Linked DNA regions of Homo sapiens: region 1 is linked to region 2. Evidence: fine-mapped expression QTL. Tissue or cell type: blood mononuclear cells. Region 2 holds a variant in brackets; the other region holds the start of a gene. All regions are shown on one strand. Distances are from middle to middle.

Region 1 (8,104 bases), 160 kb after region 2:
CTGACCAACATGGAGAAACCCCGTCTCTACTAAAAATACAAAATTAGCCAGGCGTGGTGGTGCATTCCTGTAATCCCAGCTACTTGGGAGGCTGAGGCAGGAGGATCACTTGAACCACGGAGGCGGCGGTTGCAGTGAGCTGTCATTGCACTCCAGCCTGGACAAGGAGAGCGAAACTCCGTCTTAAAAAAAAAAAAAAGGTGGCTTAACTGTCCTCTCTGTCATGGCCTCTCCCTCCCTCTTGCCCCAGTGGTATTTGGCTCTTTTGTCTGTCTTGTTTTTCCCAGACTGACCAGCCTTGGGGTTAACCAGGGGCAGGGTGACAACTCACAGGCAATGACGTCCCTCAGCCTCCTTCCCCCCACACTCCAGAGGCTGCAGGTGACTCAGGGTCTTCGTCGGTGGCTCCGGAAGCCTTGCAGGTGCCCTGCCACATGGCCGCTGTGCTGCTGGCTGCTCTGACGGGTCCTGCCGGGGCTACTGCTTTCCTGTCCCCTCCCCCGAAGCTGGGAGATGGATTTCCTCCCTGAGTGATTAATTGGTCTATTTTAAGCTCATCAAAGTAGCCTCGTACTTTCAAGTTCCTCAGGGAGCAGGCCCGGAAGATGATACCTGCGGACTTAAGGCTGCTCCACTGCAGGATATGGGGTCGGGGGCTGTGTCTGTCAATTGTGAGGTCCCTCAGGGCAGGCCCCCTCCTGAGCTGGACAGGGCTTGGCTCCTGAGTGCTGATTCTGCAGGCTGTGGCTCAGTTCTGCACTATTACTCTGGCTCCGGCAAATCCTCATGAAAATAAGCCTGGGAGCCCCGAGGGTTGCAGGTTAGCCCCCTACAGCCTTCCCTTGCATCATCCTTGCTCCTCTAACCAGGGACACTCCTGCCTCCTCCCTGACTATCTCTGCCGGGTTAACACCTGAGCATCTTCTGGCTCGATAATTCTGTCATGACCCAATACGCCTTCCCTGACCCTCACATCTGGGTTGAGGGCCTTCCTATGCCCTGTACCTAATCCTGGTTTTCCCTCTGTAAGGTGGTCAGAGATGGGCTTGGGCAGAGTAGTTTCAAAGGCTCTCCCCAAATCTCTGTGCAGCTCCCCTGACTGAAGGCCTGTGAGAACAGGGTGGTGCCTGTCTTGTTCACTGTTCCCCAATACCTCACCTAGTGCCTGGCACAGAGAAGGTACAAAAATAAAACTTTCCCAAGAATGAATGGTGTGCATTTGAATCTTATAGTGTCTGAGGACTGGGGAACCATCTCTTATCCCTTTGTATCCTCTGCTGCCCAAGGTCAGGGCCTCTGCCTGAAGTCCCTACTGAATGAGGGTTAACTGGTTCAGAGATGAGGGAGGAAGCCATTGCTGGGAGGGGCTAGAACTGGGCCCCTGCCCTTCCCACACCCGAGCAAGAGCAGTAGGATTGTCAGATGAAACACAGGACATCTGCTCACATGTGAGGAATACATCTTTTTTTTAAGACAGATTCTCTCTCTGTCACCCCAGGCTGGAGTGCAGTGGCATGATCTTGGCTCATTTCAACCTCTACCTCTTGGGTTCATGCCATTCTCCTGTCGTAGCCTCCCCAGTAGCTGGGATTACAGGCATCCACCACCATGCCTGGCTAATTGTTGTGTTTTTAGTAGAGACAGGGTTTTGCCTCATTGGCAGGCTGGTCTTGGACTCCTGACCTCAAGTGATCCGCTCACCTCAGCCTCCCAAAGTGCTGGGATTACAGGCATGAGCCATGGCACCCAGCTGGAATACATCTTTAGTATACTGCATGTAATATTTGGGACATGCTCATGCTGAAAAAACTAACTGAATTTGAATTTTTTTTTGGTTTTCTTTTTTTGAGATGGAGTCTCACTCCATTGCCCAGGCTGGAGTGCAGTGGCACAATCTTGGCTCACTGCAACCTCCGCCTCCTGGGTTCAAGCAATTCTCCTGTCTCAGCCTCCCAAGTAGCTGGGATTACAGGTGCCTGCCACCTTGCCCAGCTAATTTTTGTATTTTTAGTAGAGACGGGGTTTCACCTTGTTGGTCAGGCTGGTCTCGAACTCTTGACCTCAGGTGATCCACCCACCTCGGCATCCCAAAGTGCTGGGATTACAGGTGTGAGCCACCGCACCCGGCCTGAATTTGAATTTAACTGGGAAGCCTTTTTTTATTTTTTCCTCTTCTTTCTGAATCTGGTAACCCTAGCAAGGGAGAAGTGACTAGCCAGGTGCCAGGTGGGTCTACGGCCTGAGTCTCCAGCTCTCTATTCACATTCTGCCTGCTTCCTTGATGCTTCCTCCTCCTTAAATGCTTTCTGTCAGAGACCAGGGGGCACTCTAGGCCTGGCTGCCCAGCACGCGGAATCCAGGAGCACTCCTACCTCCTAATCCCTGCCCCAGCTGCCCTCTGGATGGTCAGGGAAGGCCTGAGGAGGTGATGTTTGAGCTGAGATTTGAGAGAATGTGACCAGAGATGATCCAGGAAAGAACATTCCATGGAGAGGTGGGAGTGAACTTGGTGCATCTGAAAACAGAAAGGCTAGCGTGGTTCTGCGATGTGGGAAGGGAGTGGAAACATGGAAACACAGTCAGCATTTCCTTTTTTTTTTTTTTTTTTTTTTGAGACGGAGTTTTGCTCTTGTTGTCCAGGCTGGAGTGTAATGGCGCGGTCTTGGCTCACCACAACCTCTGCCTCCTGGGTTCAAGTGATTCTCTTGCCTCAGCCTCCGGAGTAGCTGGGATTACAGGCATGTGCCACCCCGCCCGGCTAATTTTGTATTTTTAGTAGAGATGGGGTTTCTCCACGTTGGTCAGGCTGGTCTCTAGCTCCCGATCTCAGGTGATCCGCCCGCCTCGGCCTCCCAAAGTGCTGGGATTACAGGCGTTAGCACAACTCAGGAGGCCCTGGAACTCATCTTGTGCCACTCAAGAAAGGGCAGGAGGGGTCCTCTCCTTTCCCACCTTTCCCAAGCTGAAGGACTGCACACTTCTCAGGCTTCCAAGGCAGGAGCTTCGGCAGCAGGAACAGGGTTGCAAGGTAGTTAGTCTGGGTGTCTGTCGTCCTGGGTTGGGACATCTGGGAGCTGGGGCAAGGCCTCTGGGCCCTAGTGCCAGAGAGCAGTTTGGTGGCGTTGCCTGTTCTTTAAAATGGGTTAGGTGTAGCCATGAGCCCCCCCATGCAGCGGGTGTGCAGGCCTCTCCCTCAGTCAGAACACCCTCACCCACCCCTCCCCACTTGAAGCAGGCCCTTGAGAACACTGCTGGCAGGGAGGCGGCTGCTCTTCCTCCTAAGGGAAAAGCCTGCAGCCCCGTGCTGCTGGGCCGTGGGGTGAGGGGGAAGCCAAAGGGCCCCTATCACCCCTCAGCAGGAGTCTCTCCTGGCTTTGGAAGGGGCTGAAGGCCCGGGGCTCTCACGAGGGAACTCAGCCCTGCTCAGCCGGTCAGGACTCCTCCTCCACGTCTAAATCCACAGACCAAACAAAGGACATGGCTCAGTTCCACCTTCAATCCACAGGGATTCTGCCTGTTAGCACGCTAAGGAAACTGTTTCTTACTTTAAATTATCCATTAATTTCCTCCAACTGAAAGATACTCTACAAATTTTCTGTTGTTGGAGGGTTTAAGCTTGGTCCCTCTGAGGGGGTGGGCCCTGCTGTGTCGGCCCCTTGTGTCTGCTCGTGGAAGGTGTGCCATGTGCCACCGTGTGCCATATGCAGCTGACACGCCTGTGCGTCTCGCCTGGCGCTGGAGACTGCTCTCTGTGTACTAAGCGAGTACTGGATCCCCAGGGCCTATCTTGCCCACTGCCTGTGGCAATACACAGGCAATACACAAAGCGCATTCAAGTAAGCAGGTCTCCCTGCCCCCCGGCCTCCCAGAACCTCGGTGCCTGGAGGGCAGGTGGGGGAGGGCGTTCCTGAATGGAGGCCGGTTTCCCTCTGCGGGGAGGAAACCCCATTTCCCTCCTACCCCTAGGCGCTTGCTACATCTGGCCCGGCATCAGACAGGAAAGAACCCTTTCTTCCCAGCTTGTAGGAAGTCTGAGCTGGGCCCCTTATCTACCCACAGCACTTCCTGGACCGGGGGCCTGGACCGGGCTCCGAAGGGGCTGGCTCCCGGTCTTGGTCTTGGCCTCGGCGCCCTCGTTTCTCTGCGCTTTGGGCAGGGGAAGCTGCGGACGGCAAGCTCTCGGCTTTCGTGAGAGCCTGGTGGAATCGGTGTTCCCCGAAGGCTACTCTGCGGGGGCGGGGGCTAGTCCGGGCCTTCCCGGCAGTATCGTCTCCCCCGTGGGGGCTGGGGAGGTGCCCCCAGGGCTCCCGGAGCGGCGGCGTGGCCAAGGCCCGAACCGGGTCTGACATCTAGTGGCCTCCTGGGCCCGGGCAGGGCGAGGGCGGGGCAGGGAAGAAGGTGGAGGGCAGAATGGGAGGCGTGGAGCGAGAAAATCAGGAAGCGCGGGACCAAGCCGGGGAAGGGCGGCGGGTCTCGCCCCTGGCACCCGCTCTCCTCGGGGCCCGTCCCATCCCCCAGGCCTGGCCGACCCCAGGTCCTTCCGTGCGCAGTCGGGGCTCGCAAGGACGAATCCCGCGGCCCTCGAGGCAGGCCCGGGGGAGCTCCCGGCCCTCCACCCCCGCAGGCCGCAGATCCCACGCACCCCCGATCATGGGGGCCCCGGAGGGAGGTCGCGAGGCCGGGCTCACGGTGGCCGCGGTTCGCCCACGTGCGGGCCCGGAGCTGGCAGGGCCCGGTCCCGAGCGTGGCCGCAACCGCGGGGACCTGGCACGTGCGGGGCAGCCCCGGGGGCCGCGTACGCCACTTCCGGTCCCGGAGACACCGCCCAGCCCGCCGCCCGGTTGCCATGGCGACGCCGTCGCGCCACGGCCCGCAGAACCGGCCAAGCGACCCGGGCGCGGCGCGGGGAGGCTGAAGGGACGCTCGGGTAGGCAAGGTAGGAGGCCGGGCTGGGGGTGGGAGCGGAGCGCGCAGGGGTGCGGGGCGGGGGCGGCCCAGGTGAGCCCTGACTGCGCAGGGAGGGACAGCGCGGGGCTCCCGAGTAGCAGCCGGCCTCGCACCTGCCCCTTGCGGCCGCGCACTGGACTGCGGCGCCGACCCGCACCCTGGGCCCGAGGGCTGCAGGGCTCGCCCGCCCTCTCGGAGCCGAGCCTCTCCCGGTCCAGGCGGCCCCTGCCCTGGCCTGCCCGGGTGCCGGGTCTCTGCTGAAGTTAGAACCGAGACCCCCGCTTGCTGGTGACCCCGAGTTTGGATCTTTGCTCCTGCGCCGCGTTCTAGAGCAAGGTAGGGTGCAAATGGACCAACCAGCCTTTGCCACGGCTGCCCTCTTGAAATCTGAAACCGGAGCCACCGCCTCTTGCCCCGAGCAGGGCCCGGGCTGCAACGTGGAGCCGCAGGTCCCCGCCTGTGTCTCCCGACGCCCCCAGCTTCTGAGCGCGAGGGTGGGAGTTTCCCGAGTGGGAAAGCCCCATGGCTTCGGTGGCCTCGGTGGCCCTGTGGTGGGTCAGGCCGGTGCCAACTGCGCTGAGGGCGGAGCTGCCGCCACCTTGACACCTGGGAGATGGCAGGGCCACCCTCCCTCCCTCCCTCCCTGCCCTGTCCCCGACTGTATCACGGAGCGAGGATCATCCGTGTGGATCTGGGGTCCCCTTCCCAGACTTCTCCTTTCTGGTCGTCCTCCTCTCATTCATTCCACCTTGGCAGCCTTTGTGGATTTTCTGACTCCGTAAATGAAGTTACATCTAGGGCGCCTAGATTCTGCCCCTTTGGTTTAATAGCTAATGAAAAAAAAAAAAAAAAAGCTTTGCCACCTCCTCTAGGTGCCTGGATTTCTCCCGGTGAAATTTGATGGAGGCAGGAAAATACGAGGCGGTGGCAGCCCCACCTCCTTGCATGAGGGAGCCTCCTAGAGCTGGAGGTGGAACCACCCTGCTTGTCCCACTCCTTTTCTTTCTTGCTTTATTGCTTTCTTGCTTTCCTTACTTTCCTTCCTTCTTTTTTTTTTGAGATGGAGTCTTGCTCTGTTGCCAGGAGGCTGGAGTGCAGAGGGCAATATCAGCTCACTGCAACCTCCATCTTCCGGGTTCAAGCGATTCTCCTGTTCCAGCCTCCCTAGTAGCTGGGATTACAGGTGTGTGCCACAACACGCAGCTAATTTTTGCATTTTTAGGAGAGACGGGGTTTCACCATGTTGGCCAGGCTGGTCTCGAACTCCTAACCTCAAGTGATCTGCCCGCCTTGGCATCCCAAAGTGCTAGGATTACAGACGTGAGCCACCGTGCCCAGCCTTGTCCTACTACTTTTCTGCCCTCACCACTTTTCCTTGGCAGGCAGAGCTTGGGCTCCTGCTAATACTGGGATGGTTCAGTGGCATTAGATGGCATTGGTGGAGGGGAATGAGAAATTAACCCCCTCTGAAAGCGTAGCTTCACTGGGAAAAAGCACTCTACTGTCTGAACAATTCATAAATGAATTTTGGGAATATACAATGTCACAGATTAAAAGCAGACCATCCTGTGTTCTTCCAGCCCCAGGAGCTTCTGCTTGGTGTGCAGGGGCTAATGGTGGACAGCAATGGAGTGTAGATTTATTAGAGACGGCTGCCATCTGGCTCTCTGTGGCCCCAAACCTCATGTGTCAGCAGTGTGACTCTTTCTAAGGTGCTCTTAGGACCAGATTTCGTTTTTGTAAGATTGGTCTTTGATGGAATGCCTACTTTGTGGCAGGCACTGTGCTGGGCGCTGGCACACCTTTATCCACTTACTCCTTCTGTGTTCAATAAGGTAGCTCCAGATATCCTCCACTTTATAGATTAGGAAGCAGGCTTGGAGAAGGGACTTGGCTTGTCCAGGAGCTGATGGTTATAAATAATGAGTCTGTTTTGAAATCACATCTCTCTAACCTGGGCTGCGCTGGGCCTTTCATGGGCCGTTGGCCCTCTGGCCTTCACGGGCCCCGTCTTCCATAAAAAAAATAATAACAATTGGCCCGGCGCAGTGGTGAAAGCGCGTCTCTACAAAAGATACAAAAAATTAGCCAGGCATCGTGGAGCACGCCTGTAATCCCAGACTCGGGGAGTCTGAGGCAGGAGAATTGCTTGGACCCGGAAGGCAGAGGTTGCGGTGACCCGAGATCTTGCCATTGCACTCCAGCCTCAAAAAAAAAAAAATTAATAAAAATTATATTTTACAACTGCATTGGTATAAATACAAGTATAGTCCAGACTGGATTACAATTAATTTTAAAAACAAAACATTTTAGGGCTGGCTCATGTCTGTCTGTAATCCCAGAGCTTTGGGAGGCTGGGGCAGGAGGACTGCTTGAGACCAGGAGTTTGAGACTAGCCTGCACAACATAGTGAGACCCTATCTCTCCAAAAAAAGAAAAAATTAACTGGGCATTTCAGCATAGCTGTAGTTCCAGCTACTTGAGAGGCTGAGGTGGGAGGATCCCTCGAGCCCAGGAGTTCGAGGCTGCTGTGAGCTATGATCATGCCATCGTATTCCAGCCTGGGTGACAGAGGTAGACACTGTTAACAACAACAACAAAAAAATTAATTAAAATAAGTTTTAAAAAATTGCAACATTTTCCTCAACCCTAAATGTTCATTTTTTTCTTCTGATTTTCATGGAAATGGAAACATTTTGGTTTGTAAGCATTGGGAGCCCTCTGTCTTGTGGGAGAAAGGAGCTCAGTGTTTGACTTCAGGCTCTGCTGCTTCCTGGGTACCTAGTTCCTTGGTACCTGGTCCAAGCAGCCTGGATACCCCGGGTCCCTGGGCTGCCTGGGCCAGGACAGCCGCCCTAGGATAAATGGAAATGCAGCCCCTGCGGCTTGTTCACCCTCCTGTAATGCCTTCTCTCTTACCCTTTGGTCAGGGCCTGGTGTCTCTGCATGCACCAGGGCTTAGTGCCATGCTGGTACAAGCGTGGGGAGGATGCAGGAGGACTGGCATGGGATGGGGAGCACTGCCTGGGAAGCCCCTTCTTCCTGGGGCTACTGGGGTGCTAAGAAAGTACCCTAATAGCTCACACCACACTTTGCTTTCTCCTTCATCACATGCTAGGACGCTCTAGGGCAATTGAGCTGTTTTCCCCTTCACCCA
Region 2 (8,104 bases):
CTAGGATTGCAGGCATTAGCCACCATGCCTGGCCAAAAAAATTTTTTAATGAAAAAAAAAATGCTCATTCACACTTAGAAAAAGGCCAACATTTATTGAACACTTAACTATTGCCAGGTGCTGTTTCAAGTGCTTAACATATATTAACTTAATTCTCAAAACAGCCGCATGTAATCGGTACTATCATTACCCCCATTTTACAGGTAAAGAAGCATGTACAAAGAGGTTAAGTTCTTGTCCAAGGTTGCTAGCTGTTGGCAGAGCTAGAATTTGGTCCCTAGCAGACTGGCTCCAAAGAGTGAAAAAATATAAATCGTTAATGGTGGTTGTATCTTAGGAGGTAGAATTAAATGGGAATTTTGTTGTTGTTGTTGTTGTTATTTATTTATGTAAGATTTGCCTTTTTAAAGACAATAAATGTTACCTTTTGGGCATACACAAAAAATAAAAAGAACAAAGAAGTAAAAATGCTATCCTGTTCACTGGCTGGACATAGAATAATTTCAGTTAAGAGTAGTGTGGCACCAGGCTGATGGCTCATACCTGTAATCCCAGCACTTCAGGAGGCCAAGATGGGAGGATCACTTGAGCCCAGGAGTTCAAGACCAGCCCTGTCAACATAGCAATACCCCATCTCTTCAAAACATAAAATAACCGGGCATGGTGGCATGCAAGGAGGCTGAAGCAGAAGGATTGCTTGAGCCTGAGAGGTTGAGGCTGCAGTGAGCGATGGTTGTGCCACTGCACTCCAGCTTGGCTGACAAAGACCCTGTTACACACACACACACACAAAAAAAAGAAAAGAAAAGAAAGAAAGAAAGGAAAGGAAAAGGAAAAGAAAAAGAGTATTGTGGATCTATCATCGCATTCCCTTTTGCCAGACTTATTTTCTGTGAAGAGAATGTCTCCAGAAGTGTCTTTGGGGATTCAAATAAGTCTGGGAATTGGGGGCTCTTCGAGTTTGAAAATTTATTGACTGCTATAAGTTTCAGAGAAAAAAAAGTAACTCAACCACATGGCTGAATTTCCACAGTTGGTTGGAGGCACAGCCTTTGCTGTTCCTCTTGGATTCAGCCAGGGCCTCTAGCAGAGGGGAGGTGGCTACGCACAAGAGTGCTTCTTATAACAGTCAAGACTGTGAACAGAGCCTATCACAGATACTTCTGTCCCACTAAAAGGACACTTGAAGGTAAGCCCAAGGTGGCTTCAAGACCTTGAATAATTTTATGTTGCTAAGACAATAACCAAAGATAAGGCAAAGCAAGCCAAGCCAGCACTGGACCTCATTCCTCTGACTTTAACATGCATCTGACTCCCAGACTCTCAGATGCTGTGAGACTAGCTTTTGGTTTTTTTTTAATTATGTCACCTGATAAAAGTAAAACATGGGGGCTGGGCACAGTGGCTCACACCTATAATCCCAGCACTTTGGGAGGCTGAGGCAAGAGGATCCCTAGGAGCCAGGAATTCAAAACCAGCCTTACACAGGAAGACCCCATCTCTCTCTCTCTCTTTTTTTTCTTTTTTCGGTGAGACGGAGTCTTGCTCTGTCGCCCAGGCTGGAGTGCAGTGGTGCGATCTTGGCTCACTGCAACTTCCGCCTCCTGGGTTCAAATGACTCTCCTGCCTCAGCTTCCCAAGTAGCTGGGATTACAGGCGCCCGCCACCACGCCCAGCCAATTTTTATATTTTTAGTAGAGACGGGGTTTCACCACATTGGCCAGGCTGGTCTCGAACTCCTGACCTTATGATCCACACACATCGGCCTCCCAAAGTGCTGGGATTACAGGCGTGAGCCACCGCGCCCGGCCGGGAAGACACCATCTCTTAAGAAAAGAAAAGAAAGAAAGAAAAAAGGAAAACATGATTACAGAATATAAAGCTCAGTAATAACATCACTACCCTGAGATAACCTGTTTTGATATTTTAGTACATTTCCTTCTAGTCTTTTTTAAAAAGTTCATATATATAATATGTTAAATAAATATATACATATCTATTTCAAAATTTGGACCACACTATACATGTAGTTTTGTATCTTTTTTCCCACTTAATGTTATATTCTAAACATTTTCTCTGACAAAAGATTCTTTAAAAAATAATTTTTAGTGGCAACATAATACCTTGGCATATGGATGTAACCATCTTTAATGTTTTTTTTTTGAGACGGAGTCTCGCTCTTGTGCCCCAGGCTGGAGTGCAATGGTGTGATCTCGGCTCACTGCAACCTCCACCTCCCGGGTTCAAGTGATTCTCCTGCCTCAGCCTCCTGAGTAGCTGGGACTACAGGCGCCTGCCACCATGCCTGGCTAATTTTTGTATTTTTAGTAGAGACGGGGTTTCACCATGTTGGCCAGGCTAGTCTCGAATTCCTGACCTCAGGTAATCCACCCGCCTCGGCTTCCCAAAGTGCTGGGATTACAAGCGGGAGCCACCGCACCCGGCCGTGACCATCTTTATTTGAATAGCTCAGGGTCTCTTTTCCAGATCTAGAGACAGCAGAACAAATTCAAGAAGGGTTCATTTCTGCCTTTCCTATTAACTGCAGGAGAGAGACTGCAGGGCACCACTAGGGGTCAGTGCAGAGCCATCATCACAGGAGCCTTTACTGTGCCTTACAGTAAGCATGTCTTGATGTAAGATAATTGGTTATGCAACAATCCATATTAATAAAGATTCTATATGCTACATTAGAGATCTATTCACATGACTAGCCATGTTCCCTTTAAGAGCAGACTCCCTTAGTACAGATTTCTCAGATTATAAATAAGATTCCTCCAAATTAATTTCCAAAACAGAGCTATTTTATAAACACCAAGGTCTATCAGTGTAAGACCTGTTCTTTCCTGCTTGGTATGAGATCATTTGTGCATAAAATACTTGGCCAAAGTGTTTTATAGGTTTGTTGGGAAAATCAAATAAATAACATGTAAACGTATCTTACAAATTATGAAGCCACATATAAACGTAAATTTGCTCTTTTTTAATGATAAGCAATTCAGATATTTGGGCAAGTGGCATGACCATGGATTATTTCACTGGTTTTCTTCCTCGTAGCCCTTGCTCTCCAGCTATTGACATCAGTGTGGAGTCAGTAATTCTTTTCTTAGAAGCTGAAGTTATCATTTACAGTAAATTTGGTTTTAGTTCTTTGTCATCCTTATTTACCTGAAGCTCCTTCAGGAAAATTACTCTGAGCTCAGAATTAGCTTAGATAACTTATAAATAGGTGTATAACAGGGATCAGAAAGCCACTCTAGGCCTGACATGCTTGACAGGCTCTGACGCAGGAGGTGGGAGTTCCTGGCCCTTCTAAACACAGATGTGACTATTAGGAGCAAAAGGTACCAAGGGCCCTATTTCCCACTGGCGAGGCTTCTTATTCAGCCCTCACTCTTCTTTCTGTTCACGTTTCCTCTTCAGTTCTCAGTGCCACATCATTTGGCATCAGAGATGAAAAGGATCTAGGGCTGGTTGTTCTCAGAACCAAGAAGCTTTCAAAACCAGCTTGTGGTAGCCCTTCTTGAGAGCAGCTCAGTCTTCTCATTGGTTCACTCTGACCAATCCCAGGATGCATAGGGACCCAGGCAAAGCAGGCCCTAGTAAGTCCCTTTTTTTTTTTTTGAAAGACAGAGGCTGGGCGCCATGGCTCATGCCTGTAATCCCAGCACTTTGGGAGGCCAAGATGGACGGATCACCTAAGGTCAGGAGTTCGAGACCAGCCTGGCCAACATGGCCAAACCTGGTCTCTACTAAAGATACAAAAATTAGCCGGGGTGGCACGGTGCAGGGCGGTATGGGGACGCCATGGCAGAGCTGCAGCAGCTGTGGGTGCAGGAGGTGGTGGACTCCATGGTGAAGAGTCTGGAGAGAGAGAACATCTGGAAGATGCAGGGTCTCATGTTCCGGTGCAGCACCAGCTGTTGTGAGGACAGCCAGGCCTCCATGCAGTAGGTGCACCAGTACATCAAAGCACTGCCATGTGCCTCTGGCTCAAGCCCGGGCTTTGCTCACCAGTGAGTTGGAGAAGTTCCGGCACCACCTGGCCCGGTGCGCCATGCATTGCAACAACAAAGCCAAAGATTCAATGGATACTGGGAGTAAGGAGCTTCAGGTGAAGCAGCAGCTGGACGGTTGTGTGACCAAGTGTGTGGATGACCACACGCACCTCATCCCAACTATGGCCAAGAAGATGAAGGAGGCTCTCTTATCCATTGGGAAATAACAGTCTTTGCCAGTGGCCACTGGGGCTGAGGGCAAGAATATATTTTTTATAAGGAATTGGGAATTTTAGTCTTTTAAGCAAAGTTTATGAAGAAATGAAGGATGGCCACAAGTGTAAGACATATGTCACTTGCCTCTGGACACTGGTTCTTTTATGTTTCAGTCCTAAAAAATGAAATGGAAAAAAGTGGTGCTAAATTGGGTCAGAGATATTACAGGAGAGTTTTAGAGCTTATATATCCTATGGCCAGTGCTTGTCCTGCCAGTAAGGATCTCCCCTGTAACAAGCCAGAGCCCTCCAAGGCACTAAACTCTTCTTATTACACAGGTACCAACAGGCTGGCAGGTTAGAGTTGGTGGAGTTTGAGGAGAGATATTTTCTCTTTGTTGCCAACATCCTGTTTACCAGAAGTGTCACCACACC[A/T]TTTTCCGTAAGCTGTGAAACAAAATCCATGAGGTCACCCGCTTAGAAGGGCAAAAAAGTTTTCTGGGTCTTTGTTTTCTTGGTTTTGTGTAATTTATACAAGGCGATACAAATTGATTTTAAGATGTGGAATTGGGAGGGAGACTAGTTTGGATAAGAACTTTGAAAGTTTCCTTGAGGATCCCCATTTCTGGTCATCAAGATGTAGATGTAGATTTCTTAAAATTATTACATGCTGCATCTTTCAGCCTGGAGACCATGCAAAAACATGAGAGGTGATGACATACTAATTATGGGAAGCATAATTACTGGCTGATGGGCCGAGGCTGTGTGTAGCAAAATGACAGGACAATCTTGCAGTAACACTTTCCCGGTGAAGAGAAGGGGGTTTTGATTGTGATATATACTAGTATCTAGAAATGAACAGTAAAAGAAGAGCAGTTGGCTACTTGATTATAACAGAGTTATGAAGTACTGGATTTGGAAAAACCTGGTTTTTATAGAACGGATGGAATGAAAGCCTAAACCTAGCACTGCCTACTTAGCCCCCTGAATTAACAAAGCACAATTGAGACAAACCCTGGCAACAGGAAATCCAAGGAAGAAAAAGTAAGCAACTTGGGCTAGGATGAGCTGACTCCCTTATAGCAAAGGAGAGGCAGACCCCAGTACCAAAAACCATTTTTGCCTGGGGCTTTCGCAACTTGCAGTGTTCCTGCCCCGGCATGGCACGTTATTGTTTTGATAGCAACCTCATTGTATTTTCATCAACTTACTACTTGAAATGATAATATAGCCTGTCCATTTGCTGCTTCCAGGCTGTGTTATATTTTCCCGGTGGTTTGCTTTTAAAAATAAATAAAGTTTAATTTTCTCCCCTCCCCCTCCACAAAAAAATTAGCCGGGCATGGTGGTGCCTGCTTGTAATCCCAGCTACTTGGGAGGCTGAAGGAGGAGAATCACTTGAACCTGGGAGGTGGAGGTTGCAGTGAGCCAAGATCATGCTACTGCACTCCAGCCTGGGCCACAGAGCAAGACTCTGTCTCAAAAAAAAAAGAGACAGACTCAGCCGGGCGTGGTGGCTCATGCCTGTAATCCCAGCACTTTGGGAGGCCGAGTGTGCAGACCACTTGAGCTCAGGAGCTCGACACCAACCTGGACAACATAGTGAAACCCCATCTCTACAAAAATATATATAAATTAGCTGGGCGTGGTGGCATGCACCTGTAGTTCTAGCTACTTGGGAGGCTGAGGTGGAAGGACTGCTTGAGTCCAGGAGGTCAAGGCTGCAATGAGCTGAGATTGTGCCACTGCTCTCCAGCCTGGGCAACAGAGTGAGACTCTGCCTCAAAAAAAAAAAAAAAAAAAAAAAAAAGAAGAGTTCTCACTCTGTCACCCAAGCTGGAATGCAATGGTGCAATCATAGCTCACTGTAGCCTTAGACTCCTGGGCTCAAGTGATCCTCCCGCCTCAGCCTCTCGAGTAGATGGGATTATAGGTGTGAGCCACTGCCAAGTCCCTTATCACTGGCACTTGATTTCCTACTGGGCTAGAACCTTAAGCTGTTTGGTGAAAGAAGGGCACAGAAGTCACACAAAGAGAGCAACAGATGCTTGCACAGCAGCTCACACTGCCCTGGGACAGCTCCAGTAAAGAGCAGTCCTGTGTTCAGGTCCTACCTTCTAGAGCAGGATCTAACACAGGACACCAGTTGAATAGCTTATGCTCTAGATAAGTACAGTTCTTGGTATATAGCTAGTGTTCCAGAAATATTAGTTGCATGAATGAATGACAGGTTTAGGCTGTAAGACCAGCATCAGACCATGGAGTGCCTGGATACAACTACATTTCTATGGCCAATTAAAAAAATAATCCTGGGATTGGAGTAGTAGAGCTAAGCCTAGGGACTTGAAAGTTAGTCCAGAGGATCCCAACAGCTGGACACAAACTCAGGAAGACTCAAGAGCCATACAACAGCAATGCAGCAACCAATAATCACCGTTATTATTAAGAGCAGTTTCTAGTACAGAGCGCCTCAGGGCACTTACAATCCCCACAGAGGCCAGCTACCCAACATCAGAGTCTGACCAGCTGGGTGGTCCTGCCCTGCATCCGAGAGGGTGTCGGGACACTCATCCAGATGGCTCTGAGACAGCAGCAGAGCTGACAAGGAGGCCCCACAAGTGAGATTCCTTTGGCTTCAAGGTCGCAAGTCCTGTCCTTGGGCCTCCTGGCCTGCTGAGCCTCCCACCGGCTTTACCCTCAGAGATTGCTGCAGAAGCCTGTGTGCTGGAATGGGCTGCCACATTTCTAGGAAGGAACCCGGGGGCACATGTAGCCTGGTTATTCAATGTTATCATAGACGTGAATCACATCCTCGTGGTTGCTGAGAGCCTGAATGAGATGTGCGGCCTGTTCCAGGTCGGGCTCAGCCAGCTGCACCTTTGAGTTGGGGATGAACTCTAGTGCACAGGACACAGAACACAGGCCCAGGGAGTCCAGCTTCTTCCTCACTTGGTGCAGTGAAGAGGCATCACAAATAAACTAGGGATAAAGGAAAGTCAGGAGGTGAGGAGCCAGGAGGTAATGAGACAAAGCCACACAGGACCTTGCAAAGTCCTGAATGTCAGTACTGGAATGGATCACTGGGTTTGAGCTCTTCACTGGCAGGGACATCGTTTTCAATGTTTTGACTCTTTCTTTCTCATAGTCCTCACTAGAGTCGGTCCTATTCAGTATTCACTTAATAAATGTTTGTACAATATGTGAACTGTCTCACCTATACCCTGGGGCACATGAAGGAAGAAACCAAGAGGCATGCATAAGGCATCTATCAGGGTCCTCCCGGAAGCCCACCAAACACCCATGTTTTCATGCTTACTTTAAAAACGTTCCTTTCTTCTTCATCTTCAGTTTCCTTGACATCCTCAGCTCCTGCTTCGATTGCCATCTCCAGGGCACGCTCTAGGTTCACAGCCTTCTTCTCTCTGTCCTCCACTTCAACCACAATCACCCCCTTTTTGTCAAAAGAGTGACGAGCTCCTACAGCCATCACTCCTCTGACAGGGAAGGAAACAGGCTGGCATGAGTGGATGCCTCTAGAAGCTCAGCCTCCATAAAGCTCATCATTCTATCACTGTCTCTTTCTTACCCAGTCTATGAAGTACACACAGACATGGAGCAGATCGCATCCTCAAGGAGAAAATGCAGCTGCTGCTGGGTAAGGGAACAGCCCAAGAATGTCCCCACGCTCGATTTTCTGCCCTGATTGCAGTTGGGAGGAAGCAGACTTAGCTGATAATTTCCTGTGCCATTAAGATGCCAGTCCTGGTGGAGCATTTTAAGACTTAGGCATTATATGGCTACAGATGGGGATAATAGGACAAAGATCCCCTTCTACATCCGATGAACAAGTCTTTGGGATCCTGCTAGTAGAAACTACATTAAGGGAAAGTC

What was found. PIP is the estimated chance that this variant, and not a neighbour inherited with it, causes the effect.
Region 1: it holds the start of CYB561, and the variant in region 2 is fine-mapped to the expression of CYB561 in blood mononuclear cells (TOPMed, PIP 0.91).

What each region holds. Positions count from the first base shown.
Region 1 is chr17:63,443,077-63,451,180 of GRCh38, reverse strand. It overlaps CYB561 (cytochrome b561), which reads left to right and starts at 4,875. Exons shown (of 6, transcript NM_001915.4): 1 at 4,875-4,936. RefSeq lists enhancers at 1-495, 2,663-3,475, 3,979-4,118, 3,476-4,289 and silencers at 4,259-4,448, 4,619-5,178.
Region 2 is chr17:63,606,890-63,614,993 of GRCh38, reverse strand. TACO1 (translational activator of cytochrome c oxidase I) reads right to left here. Exons shown (of 5, transcript NM_016360.4): 4 at 7,530-7,707; 5 at 6,629-7,192. The coding sequence ends at 6,992. It also overlaps the pseudogene FAM136DP. Among named protein-coding and RNA genes, the nearest start is that of TACO1, 10 kb to the right of the region's middle. RefSeq lists enhancers at 3,387-3,887, 3,888-4,388. The variant A/T (reference allele first, on the strand shown) is at 4,649.